Homo sapiens: one gene and its partner. The protein of the gene in region 2 interacts with the protein of the main gene of each other region in a biochemical or structural test. Each region holds a gene or a part of one and is shown on either strand. Other genes may lie near its edges.

Region 1 (7,027 bases), on a different chromosome or scaffold from region 2:
CTTATGCACCAACCAGCGTAAACAGAGGACCTCCTATCTGCATGCTGGATGTGATTTGGCTTAATGTAGTTTAAATAGCACCAACTGACATTAGTGGTTGTGTGGAGGCTGGGGAACTGCAGTACCTTCTTTGAGTCCGTACCTTCTTGTGACTTGGCTGGTCTGGAGGACGTTTCTGACAGAGGCAGAGAGCTCGGAGGTGCCAAGGAGGGGAGATCAGGTTGTTCCTTGGAATCTTCTTTCTTCACGCTCAGTGGGGTCAACCCTCTTCGGTGAGGTTTGCCAGATGGCTGGGGATATTCCTTCAAAGCTTCTGAGCCTGGGGCTGTCCCATGGGACAATGCAGGGTGAGGGAGGGGAGGAATTTCCTTTGTGTCAGATGGATCTGAGGACAGGCTGGACAGCATTTCTAGCTCCCTCCTGCCTTGGCCCTGGTTGCCTAAGTGGGATTTCTCTGGCCTCTTCCCATCCTCGGTGCTGGTAAGGACCACACTGCATGGTTTTACCAGCTCAAGTTTTTCATCTGCCTTGGAAGCCTCCTCCTCCTTCACTCTTTTTTGCTGCTGGGTTTCCATGGTAAGTTCAAGGCTGCCAGCTGGTGAAAGGACACGTTTGCTTCCCCCTGCTGTTGATGAACTCCCCTCCAGGCTCAAGATACTCTCTGATGACAGGGAAGTGCCTTTTCTTTCAGGTAATGTCACAGGCACTCTCAGGTATGGAGTTGGGAAAGCTCTGCTTTGCTCTTCACTTAACCCAGAAGGGCCGGGCCCAACCTCATGCACATCTGCACCACATACAGTCGTCCCCTTTGATGGGGGTTCCTCAAACTTGGGAAGTGCCACAGTTGCTGAGCTGCCTTGGGACTGGGTGACCAAGATCTGGGAAAGGGTGGTGTACATTGCGCTCCCATAGGACGGCATATTGGTCTGAACACGGACAGGCACAACCAGGGACACCATGGTGTCTGGACAGGCAGGCAGGGCCAGTGGAGGAGCTGATGTAGGTGCTGAGGAGCTGGCTGGGGGAGCCACAGGGGGTAGCCGGATGTCACTGCTGTACTCTGTGCTGGGGGAGAGGCCAGCACTTCCTGTTGCCAGTGGGGCCAGGCTGGTTTTGATCTGGGGCAGATGGCTTTCCACATCACCAGGGAGCTGAAGTGCAAACTGGGATTGCAGAGGCAGGAAAAACCCAGAAGACAGTGCTGAGGAGGTCGGGTATGGCATGGGGAGGAAGGAAGGGGGCTGCCTGAAGGGGATGTTGGCTGGGTGAGGCATGAGCTGGGGGAGATGGAGTTGGCCTGGGTGCAGAACAGTAGGCTGGAGAGGAAGCGGTGGGGCTTGAAATAAGGAGGGAGGAAGTGGGGGCATGGAGTATGGTGAGGACAGGAGGCTGGACATGGCCTGGGTGGAGAAGAATTCTGGAGACTGTCCTGGCTCATGCTGCACGAGATGCTGGAAGGAGAAAAGGGAGACTGGTGGGGGCAGGTATGGCTTCTCATGCAGGGGTGTCTGGGCAACGGGGTGGTGGAACACTTGCAGTGCTTCTGTGTAGGGCACAGTGGGCCCCAATGGGGGCCTGTCCTGCCCTGGGCCCTTGCCTCCCGGGGGTCCACCATGTGAGGTGGCCGCAGAGGAAATCTGGGACAATGAGCTTTTGGCAGAGGGTTTACTGGATGAGGGCTGTGGTTCTTCGCTCTCCTGTCTTCCCTTGGGGGCAACCTCCAACTCAGATTCTGGAGGCCTGCTCAGAGAGGCCTGTCTCACCAAGAAGCATTTTCTTCTCTCTGGCGGGGCCACCCGCGCTGGTGGAGCCACTGGGGCTGGAGCAGAAGGGCCTGTCAAGGACAAGCTGCCATAGTCAAAGGATTTGCTGCGTGTCTCGGTCATGTGGGCAGAATGGGAAACGTTGGGGCTCTGCTCTGAGGCTGACCTCCGCATCTCTCGGGCATGTGGGTGGTGGCTGGGGACAGTCAACATGTGGGTGCCCAGGGGTTTGGGGCGCATGTCAGATGAGGGACTGGGGGCCTCGGCTTTCCCATGGTCATCCCTCTCAAACGAGGCTGAGCGGCTGGACCCACTCAAAGAGACATTGCTTTCCTGGCTCGGGCTGCGAGACAGAGGCACAGAGGACTCGAAGCTGGACTCCCCTGATGATTGGGCCATCTCTGCCAGGCGCAACCTCTTCTTTTTGGGTGGCAGCTTCTCAGCTGGGAGCTGGGCAAGTGTCTGGCTGCGCTGGGGCCATTGGAACTCCTCAGTCTTCTCAGGTTCCTTAGGGGGCGGCTCTGGCTCTGTGTCCGGCCGGTCAGGCTCCTCAGTTACTAGGATCTCAGGAACCTGAATGTTGGGCTGGCGGACCAACTTAGGCTGCAGGGAGTGAGCAGAGCGTCCGTGTGGGGCAGGTGGGGGTGATGGGAACTGGGCCAGAGGTTTGTCTTCCCCTTCCAAGCCACTCGGCTGCTCGAGAGAATCAGATTTCTCAAAGGAGCTGGTGTGCTGGATGACAGAAATTTCTTTGGACGTTGTTCTCCTCTCCTTCCCTGATTCTGAACCGGACCCTGGCTTGGGAGTCCTTGGCTGGAAGCCCGTGGGTCCCTCCAAGGAGGGCACTGATTTACTTGGTTCTGCTGGTGACTTGGTGGACTCCAGGGGAAGGTTCCGAGCAGCATCAGATGGCCCGGGGCTGCCAAACTGACTTTTTGTGGACTCAAAGGCAGGTGGCTCTTCCTCGTCCCCAAGGCTCTTCTCTTTCCTCCTCTTCCTCAGTGGAGTGAGTTCCAGGGTGGTTCCCAGTTTGTAATGCATCATTTGGGACCACGGCTCATGCTCAATCTGACTCTTTTCAGCTTCTGGAGATGTGTGGGTGCCTGCAGAGATGGGCTTTGCGATCTGAAGCTCTGAGCAGTAGTATTTTTTGTGGGCTTCGTAGTTATCCCTTTTCTTGTACCGAGCACCACATATGTTACATTCGTAGATCACCCCTTTTGTTTTCAAACCCTTCTTGGTCTTTTTGGTAAGCTCGCTTTCCTTGGGTTCCACTTCGTCCGAGGGCTTGGAGGCTGTGTCTTTGCTGCTTGGGCCAGGCTCCTCAGAACTGTATTCCCCTCCCAAAGGTAATTCGATTGCCGGCTGGCGCTTCAGCATCCGGGGGTGGGAGGTAAACACGTGACTGCTGTGGCTCAGGGCTTCGGAGTCGGTGATATGGTCATCGAAGGAGTAGCTACCTCGGAAGGGGTGGTGGGGGGTGCTGATAGTGCAGGCGGCAGAAGGCATTGAGTGGCTTCTCAGGAGAGGCACAGGGGGGGCGGTACTGGGCGGGTGCTGGAGGCTCAGCAGTGATTGTTCAGGCTTGGTTTTCTCACTGTGGGATGACAGGGGCTCCCGGTAGAGGCTGGATTTTGGGGACTCCATGCTGCTGCGCCTGGACAGTGAGCTCCGCCTTGGCTTCACGCTGTCGATCTCGCTGGTGTCCACCACGGCCTCGTTGATGGTGATGAGCTTCGTGATGTGCTCGATCACCTGCGTCCGGGGTACAGACAAAGGCACCAGGCTGGGCTTGTCTTCGGTGGACAGGGGCAGGAGGGGCTGGGTGGAGGTGGCTGTCAGCATGGCGGTCCGCTGTCCTATTCGCCCACACTTGCCAAAGATGATCTCAGCGTAGGACTTGGCGTTGGTGTTTGGGGGGCTGACCTGCTGCTCTGCACTCTCGGAGCGAGAGAAATACCCAGACTCAGTACTCCCTTTGCTGCCTGGGCTCAGAAACGCCTGCTCATCGATCACCTTCTTCCTCTCGCTTAAGCGGAGGGCCAGCTTCTGCTTAATCGTGTGGGTGTCTTCAGGTTTATGGCTCAGGGGGTGCTCAGATGAGGGTTCCACAAATGGAGGGGGGTCTTCGAGTGACTGGGCTGTGCTGGACTGGGACAGGGAACAGCGTTCGTGGCTGGAACTGTGGCTCCCAGAGCTGTATAGCCCGCTGGAGAGAAGGGGCTGCTTGGGTCTTGGGGAGAGCTCTGCAGGGTGACCAGAGGTGGCACTAGTCTCCTCTTCAGAATCTGTGCTTTCTCCCTCAGTGGGCTCCTCAAACTCTTCCCCAGGGATCCGCTCCATCTCCAGCCCATGTGGGTACATCTCGCCACCCATGCCTGAGGCCAGGCCTGCTTTGATGCGGTGGGCATGGGACTTCCTGTGCTTGTAGAGATTACTCTTGGTCTTGAAGGAGAAGCCACAGGGGCCGCAGGGGTAGGGCCTCTCACCTGTGTGTGAGCGAATGTGCTTCTGGAGCACGCTGGGCTTGGCACAGGGCCGGCTGCAGTACTGGCAGATGTACTTGCCTGGCTTCTGGGGCTTCCTCTCCTTCTTGTGTGCCTCTTCTGTGGGCTTCAAGGAGACCTGGGAAGGACGAGGCACGAAGACTTTGGGGACTCCAGGAAGGTCCTCGGGGGGAATGATGGAAGCGTGGGAAGGAAGGAGCTGGCTCTGAGGATGGAGCCCAGGGGCCACGAAGGAGCCAGAGGGTCCAGGTCTCATGGGGTCAACCAGTTGCCATGTGGACCCCTCCAGGAGATGCTCAGGTTTGCCAGGCGACATGAATGCTGGTGTCAGAGGGTGCTGCGGAAGCTGTGAGATGTGGACGGATGCTTCGATGGGGGGCCTTTTGGGGGGCTTCTGCTGCTGGCCCGTTTTCTCCTGAGAGCCTTCCCTAAGAACTGATGAGGGGCCCGGGAAGGGCTGCGGGGCTAAGAGCTCTTGGGCGGGGCTCTCTTGGGTGGCAGCTGTGCCGCTGCCTGGGTATGGGACGCTGGAAGAAACACTGGTCTGAATGGCCTCTCCTTTGGTCAGCCGCTTCCGGGGACTTCCCTCAGCCTTCTTGGTGCCCTTGACACTTTGTTCAGGATCCATGACCTTCACAAAGACTTCAGATGCTATTCAGGGAGAGTCAGGGCGGGCTGCATTTATGAATAATCCCAGTGTCCCAAGGAGGTGTCCAGCTTTGGCCACATTGGTCAAGAGCTGTGGGAGCCAAACCCAAGACGGCTTTGGGAGTTTTTTGCAAGTGTCACTGGCTGTGAGTGGACTCGGAGCAGGTCATCAGGGCCCACGCTATTCTATTGGTGAGGCATGGCCCTCTACTTTGCAGACAGAAAACGCACCAGCACTTTCTGCCTGAATGTCTGTCGGGAAAACGTCATGAAGGATGTCAGTATTGCCATTGTATTGTTTCAGCTGGCAGTGGCAGGTGGCCCCCACGAGTCCCCCGTGTGCTATGCAAACGGTTGAAGGTTGGAGACATCTGTGTCCATGGCCCAGTCATCCCTGGTCCTGGCACAAGAGATGCCACGCTGGATGCTGGGGGTGGCTCTTCTCCCCTTTAGTTCTGGGTTGGAGATCAACGGCCTTGGAGGAGAAATCACGCTCTTCTTCTGTGTGATAGATGTACACACACACAGAAATACACACACACAAAAGAGAAGACAGAGTTACTGGGACTCATGCACAGCCTGGGCAGCCCAGACTCGGTGCCACACCTGGCTGAGACCCCTCAAAAGTTAACCAGGGAAACTCAAGCAGAACCACAGGCTCCGGCTCCACATGTCCAAGCCCTGCAATTCTTTCCTCCCCCGCTCCCATGTCAGTGTTGGGTGACCTGAATGCCAGTGTGTTTCTGAGGACTGTGGCCATGTGGGATGCTGAGAACAGAAGGCAAAGTGGGCTCTGGGAACTGCAGGGTGGTTAGGGACAGAGGCCTGGGCTCTCATCTCTGTTTTGTGATCCACTCTGAGTGGGTCTAAGCTCTCTAAGCCTCAGTTGCCTAATCGGTAAAACAGATAACAAATCCTGCCTCGACTGTGCCTCGGAGCTGCAGTGGGCCCAATGACATTGGAGATGCAGATGCTGCTGGGTGAACTCTGGATGGGGCCATGGCTGGTGCAGGAGGGAAGTGCCTGTGGTTTATTCAGGGGTGAGTTTTCCAAGGGGTAGATTATTCTCAGGTTAGTATTTCTCTCTGGCCCTGGGTTCTGAAAGTGTCCACAAGGGACATCATTCACTGCTTTTTACCCCATTGCTAACCCGCACCCCAGCCCATGTTTGAAGACAAAACTGCAAACTACTGCCACAGCCTGTGAGAACTTACAATCTGACACAGCTGTGACCATTTGCTTGATCCAAGCAATTGCCAGGAGGATCATTCTGGAAGGTTCCTCTGGCTTTGCAGCCTTTCCTTGTCCAGTCAGTGCCCTGGGGATGCCATGGAAATATGGGGATCATTGCCCTCAAGTGGAGGAGCAAAGTTGGTCTGCATATAGCCCCAAGTGTGTGCCTCCTCCTAGGGCCAGCTGCAAGCAGGGCAGTCTCAGCTTCCTGGGCTCAGGTGCATCCTCAGGGCCCTCCTCCCCAGGAACAGGGTCGGAATCCCAAGGCTGGAGTCACCATGGACTCCATCTCACCCAACCACCTGACTTTGGACATCATGAAGATGGCTTACTGAAGGTCCCGTGTTGCTAACAGGCAGTGTTGCCACCTGGACCCAGGCCTCCCATGGCCAGAGTTTGTTCCCCAGCCCCTTCTCAGGTGTCCATCCCCTGGCATCCCTTGGCGAGGCCCTGGGTGAGTGATGAGCATCTCTGTGCTTGCTTTTTCTCCTGTGAGCATGCCCTACCCCCGGCATCCTGCCCTCAGGCTCCCCTCATGCTCACACTCTTCGTTTCACTAGGTGTGTGATGATACAGACTTGAAAATGCCACTTACTACATTTTTGCAGGTGCTCAGAAGACGAACAAGTCTTTAAGACTCAAATAATTGTCTCTTAAAGGGCAGGGCCCTCGGACACTGTGATATGCTTTGGAGGAGCAGGTGATTTGATCTTTTAGCTAAAAAGCATATCCTCTAAGTTCACTCCTTTTGTGTGCCTTTTCTACTTGGTGCTACAAAGAATTCAAAGTAACTATAACAAAACCATATTTATAGAAGAATGACAAACTATAAATATGAGAAAATCATAAATAAGAATAACAAATCAGAACAAAGAA
Region 2 (7,027 bases):
GGAAGCAGGTGTCATGCCAGAAGCGGTTCTTATAGTGCACCTCCTGGAAACCAAGCAGACAGGGTGGGCCACCATGAGGGGTGCTGGGGGTGGTGGCAGGAGCCCTCCCATAAGGCTGATTTCCCTGGGACTGACCACTGAGATGACACAGTCCCTTACACCTGGGACTGCCCCACAGTGACTATTCTTATAGGAGGGACGCTGAGGTGAGGATAAAAATCTCACAATTCTTGAAATATTTAGAATGCAATCAAAAGAGCTGGCAAGGGCGCTGGCGCCCATCCAGTCAAGCCCCACATTAAACAGCTCGGGCCACTGTGGCCTGGGGAGTGGAGGAGGCTTCCTTGAGGCCTCAAGGTGGCTGCAGTGATGCTGGGAAATCCTAACAGCCAGCTGCTGCTGCCATGGTTGTGGGCAAAGGACACTCCAAAACCCAGCCCTTCCCATTGGCACATGGGGATGCCCGTTACCTTGGAGTCCGCACCGATGGGCTTGCGGCATTCCACACAGGTGTTGGCACAGAACTTGTCAAAGCATTTCAGGCAGCAGTGGTGGCCATCCTTTTGCACATACTTCTTCCCCTGCAAGGGATCCCTGCAGTAGTGGCAGTCAAACTTCTCCGCCATGGTGCCCACCTTGTAGCTGGAGGGACCTGCGGGGGCAAGCAGACAGGACAAATGACCACAGGAAATGCCCCAGCACCCTGAGCAGTGGCTCCCAGAGGCACCTGCACAATGCTGCCTTGGAGTCCATGGGGTCTGAGGACCAAGACCCAGCTTCCCCTTCAGCCGAGCTGACTACCAGGCACCAAGACAACAGATACTTCACTATGATTCCAGGAACAAAAGCACCCCGCGGGGCCAGATGGCCGATGGCTAGTGATTCCCTGGGGAGATGGTAGAAGCCCCTGCTCAGATATATCAACTGTGCTGATTCACAAAAGATGCGGAGCGGGGCAAGTGGATCAGAGCCTGTGTTGGCCAAGTCACCAGATAGGGGACAGGATGCTGGGAGGTATGGCTGAGCAGTGCTATTGTGCCATTGAGCAGTGACCCGATGGAGTGGAGGGGTGTGATGGGGCAGGCAGGCAAGAAGCAGTTGTTTTATACAAAGGAAGAGTGTGGGGCAGAGGCTCAAAGGGGTGCAGGAAAGCAGGGGCCCCGCCTGCAGGCAGCAGCTTCTCTAAGCCCACCACGTTGTCATCAAGAAGCCTCTCTGCCCGCTTTCAGCTCTTCCTCCGTCTCTTTTTAGGGAGGGTAGTATCCTCTGGAGGCCTCCCGTTCCTCCTATCTATAAAATTCTATTCATCAGAATAGAAACTGACAGCTCATTCTGTACCACACCAGGTACCTAAGCAATCCTTGTTAATTTGTTTAAAATGTTTAAATTTACTTGCAATTTAGCAGAAAAGTGTTAAATCCCTGAATAGATCCTAAAGAGTTTTGTCCAAGAGAGTTTACTGCCTTTTGAGGCCAGAGCAATATAGCAAGAGAGGACTTATATAAATGGCTTTGTCAATTGGCACAGGCAAGTTTGGCAACCTTGAATTATCTGTCATAGTCACGGGTGGCTTTGTGACCAAAATCAAACCCTCCCTTGAGTCAAGCAAGTGAGAATCAATATGCTCATAGAAGTGTAACCAGTATTACCATTTGGGATATTTGCTGTCTTAAAAATTATAATCTTAAAATAGAGTCTGGAAAAAATTATTCCAAGAATCCCTTCCACTCCCTCCGTATGAACAACCCCTCTTCCCTCCCTGGTCCCCTCCCCGGCTGTGGCCCTAGACAACACGCCTGCAATCCCAAGCATTACTAAGGCACTCTGCAGCTCCCTTTGCCAAGGCATTTCCTATAGAATCCTGCCACCCAAAAGGTACCAAATATGAGTTTCTATTAGCTTTCAACTTCTTTAAACATATGCTAATTTGTTCCTCTCCCCCGAAAAAGAAATTTGCACGGGTAAATAGATAGCAATTATTTCATTTGTGCAGGAAATACAAGAATTGAGACTACTTTCTAAAACTATCCACAAACATGGTTATTGTGCTAGCAAACTTCCAGCGTAATTTAGAGAGAAAGAATGAGAGAAAATAAATGAGCAGTTGCCTGGTACTCACCGCAGCTCTTCCACTAACTGAAAGCCCCAAAGTCTCACTTTGGGTTCCATTCCCAGGTTTTTTTTATACAAACACATGTCCAAGTTATTTGGATCTTGTTGCCATGAGCAACCAAACAGCAGAGAGTGAGCTAAGGAAACCACACCCTGTGTTTGAGAAGCCGCCTGGGCAAAGGCTGTTGAACTCTCACTCAGAACCAAGCCTCCAAACAAAGGAAATCAGGCCACTGGATGAGCCACAGGGCCTTCTGCCTCCTGCTGACACACAGACCCCCCTCATCTCTAAGGAGCTGGCAGATGAAGCAGATGAGTGACATTCTTGTGCAAGGACAGTTGCTTAGGACAGTTGTGTCACAATTAAGAGACTTAGCAAGACCAGAGAATGGTTCTAACTTGAACTTTTCTCTAAAAAGCAAACTGGGATGTTTCTTTATATAATGGGTTAGAAACAAAAACTAGAGACGCAATGGACACAGGGCCTATCTCCTTGAACTATGTACTGTTTAGGTAAGGAAGCTTTTAAACTGCTTTTAGCCTGTGTGTCTACAGAGAAAAGTACCTGTCCCAGTGACAGCATATGGAAAATCACTCTCTTTAATCCATTCTTGTTGGTCTTTCCAGTGTCACACAGAAGCCTCGTCTTAGCTTTGCCATACTGATAATATTGTGCCCTCAACAAAGACTTGCTTTCTTGTTAAGGGCTGAGTTGAGAAACCAAATAAATCTCCAGTAACGGCAAGTGGCAAGAAATAAATTATCAGTTGCTCCTAAATGCCATTTGGCAGGAAAACAGAATTTGTAAGATTAGACAGCACTGGCTTCCTGCATGGCTAGTAACCATTGCTGGTTTAGCCTTTCAGAGACTATCTTCTGGACCATATTTGAAAATCCCTCATTCTCTCTTACCAAGGTCTCTATTTAGTATACAACTTTGAACCTACTCGTTTTAGTATCACTTGCTTTTGATACCTTTATAAGCAGAAATTGATTCCAAATATTTCTAAGTTAAAGTACTATATAAAGTTCCACCTAAGGTGAGTCAAACCTCTTAGTATTTGAGTCCTAGCTTTATGGTAAGAAATACAGGTTAACTAGTGTCATACCAAAGAAAAAACACTAGAAAACACAATGAATGCCATTTAGAAGTAGAGGTTTTGAAGAGAAGGAAAACTGCATTATGGTTCAAAGTACCTGAGAGATCTTAACTGCCATGTTTTTCACACTTTAAAACCACACACTTTCAGTACTTTGATATTACCAGTGCAAAGTTCTTCATTGTTTAGTCTCATAGTTCTAGAACATGACTTGCTCAGAGTTCTAAGCATCCAGATGATAAAATAATCCACAGCTCACCAGTGAAGATAGAAGTAACAAAGGGTGTTGAAAATGTCAGACAATGAAGTCACTGGCCACTGTATCATTCCTATAGTACATGGTCTTAAACCAAGCAAAAGGAAAATTAAATGAATCAACCCCAAGTTAATAGTACCCATAAGAAGAGTTTCATCTCTTGGTATTTTTGAATCCTAGCTTTAGGCAAGATTTTTTCACTCTGAGTTTGAAAACTCTAGGGTCACCTTACACCTTAGATTCCCCACCACTCTATACTTAAACCTGCAGTCTGTATCCAGATGGAGAATCATTTCAAAGGGCATATTCTTTTAGAATACATTTCTACAATTCACTTGAGTCCTTTTAATGTGTGTGGAAACAATTAGTCTAGATAAAATAGGCACTTCTAGGAATGTTGGATTTGTTGCATAATAAGTAAACAGGCTAGAAATACTTAAAGTATGTTAACAATGTCTATGTCAAATTCATGAACTTTCGTATTTGTTTTGCAATAAATCAAATTAAGTGGAACTCTGGGCAACCTGAATTAGCTTACGTCACGTACTTCTAAATTTATGATTATTTGTTACAAAACAATTTCAAACCCTCATGCACGCAGTGTGCTCAGGATGAAGTTGGAGGAGATACTGATCACGTCACAATTTTGTATAAAATATGAATGATGTGCTGATGTGCACAAGACCAAAACAACTCTAAAAAGCCAGCTTATAAATGACAATGCTGAGACACACATGCAAAGATCCTGAGTGTGGGCTCCCTGAGTCTGAGCTACTATCAAGCTTTGACTTCATGAGGAGAGAAAAGCTTGCTCTTTCTTTCTTTCTTTTTTATTTTAGACGGAGTCTCGCTCTGTCACCAGGCTGGAGTGCAGTGGCGCAATCTTGGATCACTGTAACCTCTGCCTCCTGGGTTCAAGTGATTCTCCTGCCTCAGCCTCCCGAGTAGCTGGAACTACAGGCATGTGACACCACACCCAGCTAATTTTTGTATTTTTAGTAGAGACAGGGTTTCACCATGTTGGCCAGGATGGTCTCGATCTCCTGACCTCATGATCCACCTGCCTTGGCCTCCCAAAGTGCATTTTACAGGCGTGAGCCACCGCACCTGAGATTACAGGGGTTACAGGCATGAGCCACCGCGTCCATCCCAGCTTGCACTTTCTTTTGTTTGAAATGAGAGAATAGGGAAAAATGAAGATAGCATTTTACCTCTTTGTTGTTGTTGAGACAGGGTCTCGCTCTGTCACCCAGGCTGAAGTGCAGTGGTGCTATCCTGGCTCACTGCAACCTCCACCTCCTGGGTTCAAGCAATTCTCCTACCTTAGCCTCCTGAGTAGCTAGGACTATAGGTGAATGCCACCACGCCTGGCTAATTTTTGTATTTTTAGTAGAGACGGGGTTTCGCCATGTCGGGCAGGCTGGTCTTGAACTCCTGACCTCAAGTGATCTGCCCACCTCGGCCTCCCAACTTGATGGGATTGCAGGCATGAGCCACCATGCCCAGCCAGCATTTTACCTCTTCTTTTGGGCTCTCTTCAACCTTACAGAATTACATGTACTTAGGCATTTATTTCTTAGGGAATAATTTTTTATCCCCTTAGCTATTTCTAAGTACATGAAATGTGAAGGCCTTTAATCTTCCAGAACTTCTAGATATGTCTGCCTTGACCTATTGCTGTTATCCGGGAATGGGAGTGTCAGCCATCATTGAAGGAAACAATTGCTACACATCATCACCATGCTTCTTCCCTTACCACTTGTCTTTGTGGAGGGCATGTTTGCCCTCGGGCAGCTCTTTGACTAATTTTAATGTCTCGGTGTAGCCCTCATCTGTACATAGTAGGGATGCCAGAGTAGGTATTAGACATGAGCAGGGCAAGAGAGGGCCCCCCACCCAACCAGGAATGTCAGGCGGCCATCAGGTGAAGGTCAGATGGTTGTTAAACTATCTCTCGCTAAAATAATAATTGGTTGCAGCTGGCACCAAGGAAACACGGTCCCTAATAGACAGAAACACCTGAAACTGATGCTCAGCCACGTCCCCATGAGATCTCAGGAGGTGGGTAATTGGGCTCAAGCATGTGCACTAAGAGGCAAAATTGCGGTGTTTAACTGGTATAAGACCTACCTCTGGGAATGCTCTACTGCTAAGGGAAAAATCGCTTAAAGTAAGCATGCACACAACTTCAGTAAACACCACGCATGCGGCACTTCCCAAGTGCTGGCAGGCCACTGGGCATGCGGACAGCCCACCCCAAGGGAAGAATCAGGAGAGAAGTAATATAACACCCGAATCATGCCAACATATAAAAGCCCAGGTCAAAGGTCAAACCATGCACTTTTTGAATCTCTCAAGTAGCCTGCTTGGTCATCTTCTAAATGTACTTTACTTTCATTCCTGCTCTGAAACTTTATTTTATTTTTTGAGACGGAGTCTCACTTTGTCACCCAGGCTGCAGTGCAATGGTGCAATCTCTGTTCACTGTAACTTCCGCCTCCCAGGTTCAAGCAATTCTCCTGCCTCAGCCTCCCAAGTAGCTGGGATTACATGCGTGCACCACCAAGCCTGGCTAATTTTTGTATTTTTAGTAGAGACAGAGTTTCAGCATGTTGACCAGGCTGGTCTCCAACTCCTGACCTCAAGTAATCCACCCGCCTCAGCCTCCCAAAGTGCTGGCATTACAGGCATGAGCCACCGTGCCCGGCCTCCTGCTCTAAAAGTTTTTAATAAACTTTCACTCCTGCTCTAAAAGTTGCCTTGGCTTCTCCCTCTGCCTTGTTCTTCCTTGAGGAGGCAAGAAATGAGGTTGCTACAGACCCACAGATTCCCCGCTGCTAACATACTTTGGTGCCGAGTGACTTGGATACATTCCCTAGTGCTAACAAGTGGGGTTTCTCTATGACAGAAAGTTCTGCTCATACACTAGGGGGCCCCAGTACCTAATCCAGGGCTTTGTATACAGGAATCACTCAGTATATGCCTGTTGATTGACAGATGGAGATATGTTACCACAACTAAGTTTCTAAAACTTTGGTATGTGGATAGTCACTGAAAGTGGCTTCTGATCCAATTATCTGAGCCTCTATTTTGTCCATACCAACCCTATTTCAGGACCACACTGATTTCCTTTCTGTAAGGACTTCTTTCTTGGGCCTATTCTCCTCTGCTTTCATGGACTTATGAACCTAATGCAATATGACATACTATTTCCTGATTTTAAAAATCATCTTATATGACGTGTAAGGTGCTGAAGTCTAACCTACACCTTAGGTCCACATAAATGTCCCCTGATTTTCTAAGACAGAAAGCATCATTATTAAATAATTTAATTAAAAATTAACTAAATTAAAGTTTTACAAGCTTAGAATACAGTTAGAAATGTGGCTGGGTGATAAAATTTTAGACATTTATTCCAAAAGGGTAGCCTGACTTTCTATGCCTGCTTCAAAAGACACATCATTTTCACTTAATAAACAAGCTTCCTTTTTCAGAAAATTCTTGAACTACATCCAACATGCTGAGAGGTGCCTAAATAAACCTCAGTATCTTAATTAAA

What was found. Proteins that work in one complex are often made in the same cells at the same time.
Region 1: the proteins of FHL1 (region 2) and HIVEP3 form a complex in vitro, tested with the Homo sapiens proteins (one study listed by BioGRID).

The regions. Positions count from the first base shown.
Region 1 is NC_000001.11:41,579,900-41,586,926, forward strand, and holds part of HIVEP3 (transcription factor HIVEP3), read right to left. Parts: intron 5,420-7,027; coding exon of another isoform or gene 5,407-5,419; 5' UTR 4,899-5,406; coding exon 1-4,898. Other genes in the region: uncharacterized LOC128125817, read right to left, coding at 5,407-5,419.
Region 2 is NC_000023.11:136,200,032-136,207,058, reverse strand, and holds part of FHL1 (four and a half LIM domains protein 1), read right to left. Parts: intron 2,158-7,027; exon of another isoform or gene 2,120-2,157; intron 653-2,119; coding exon 471-652; intron 44-470; coding exon 1-43.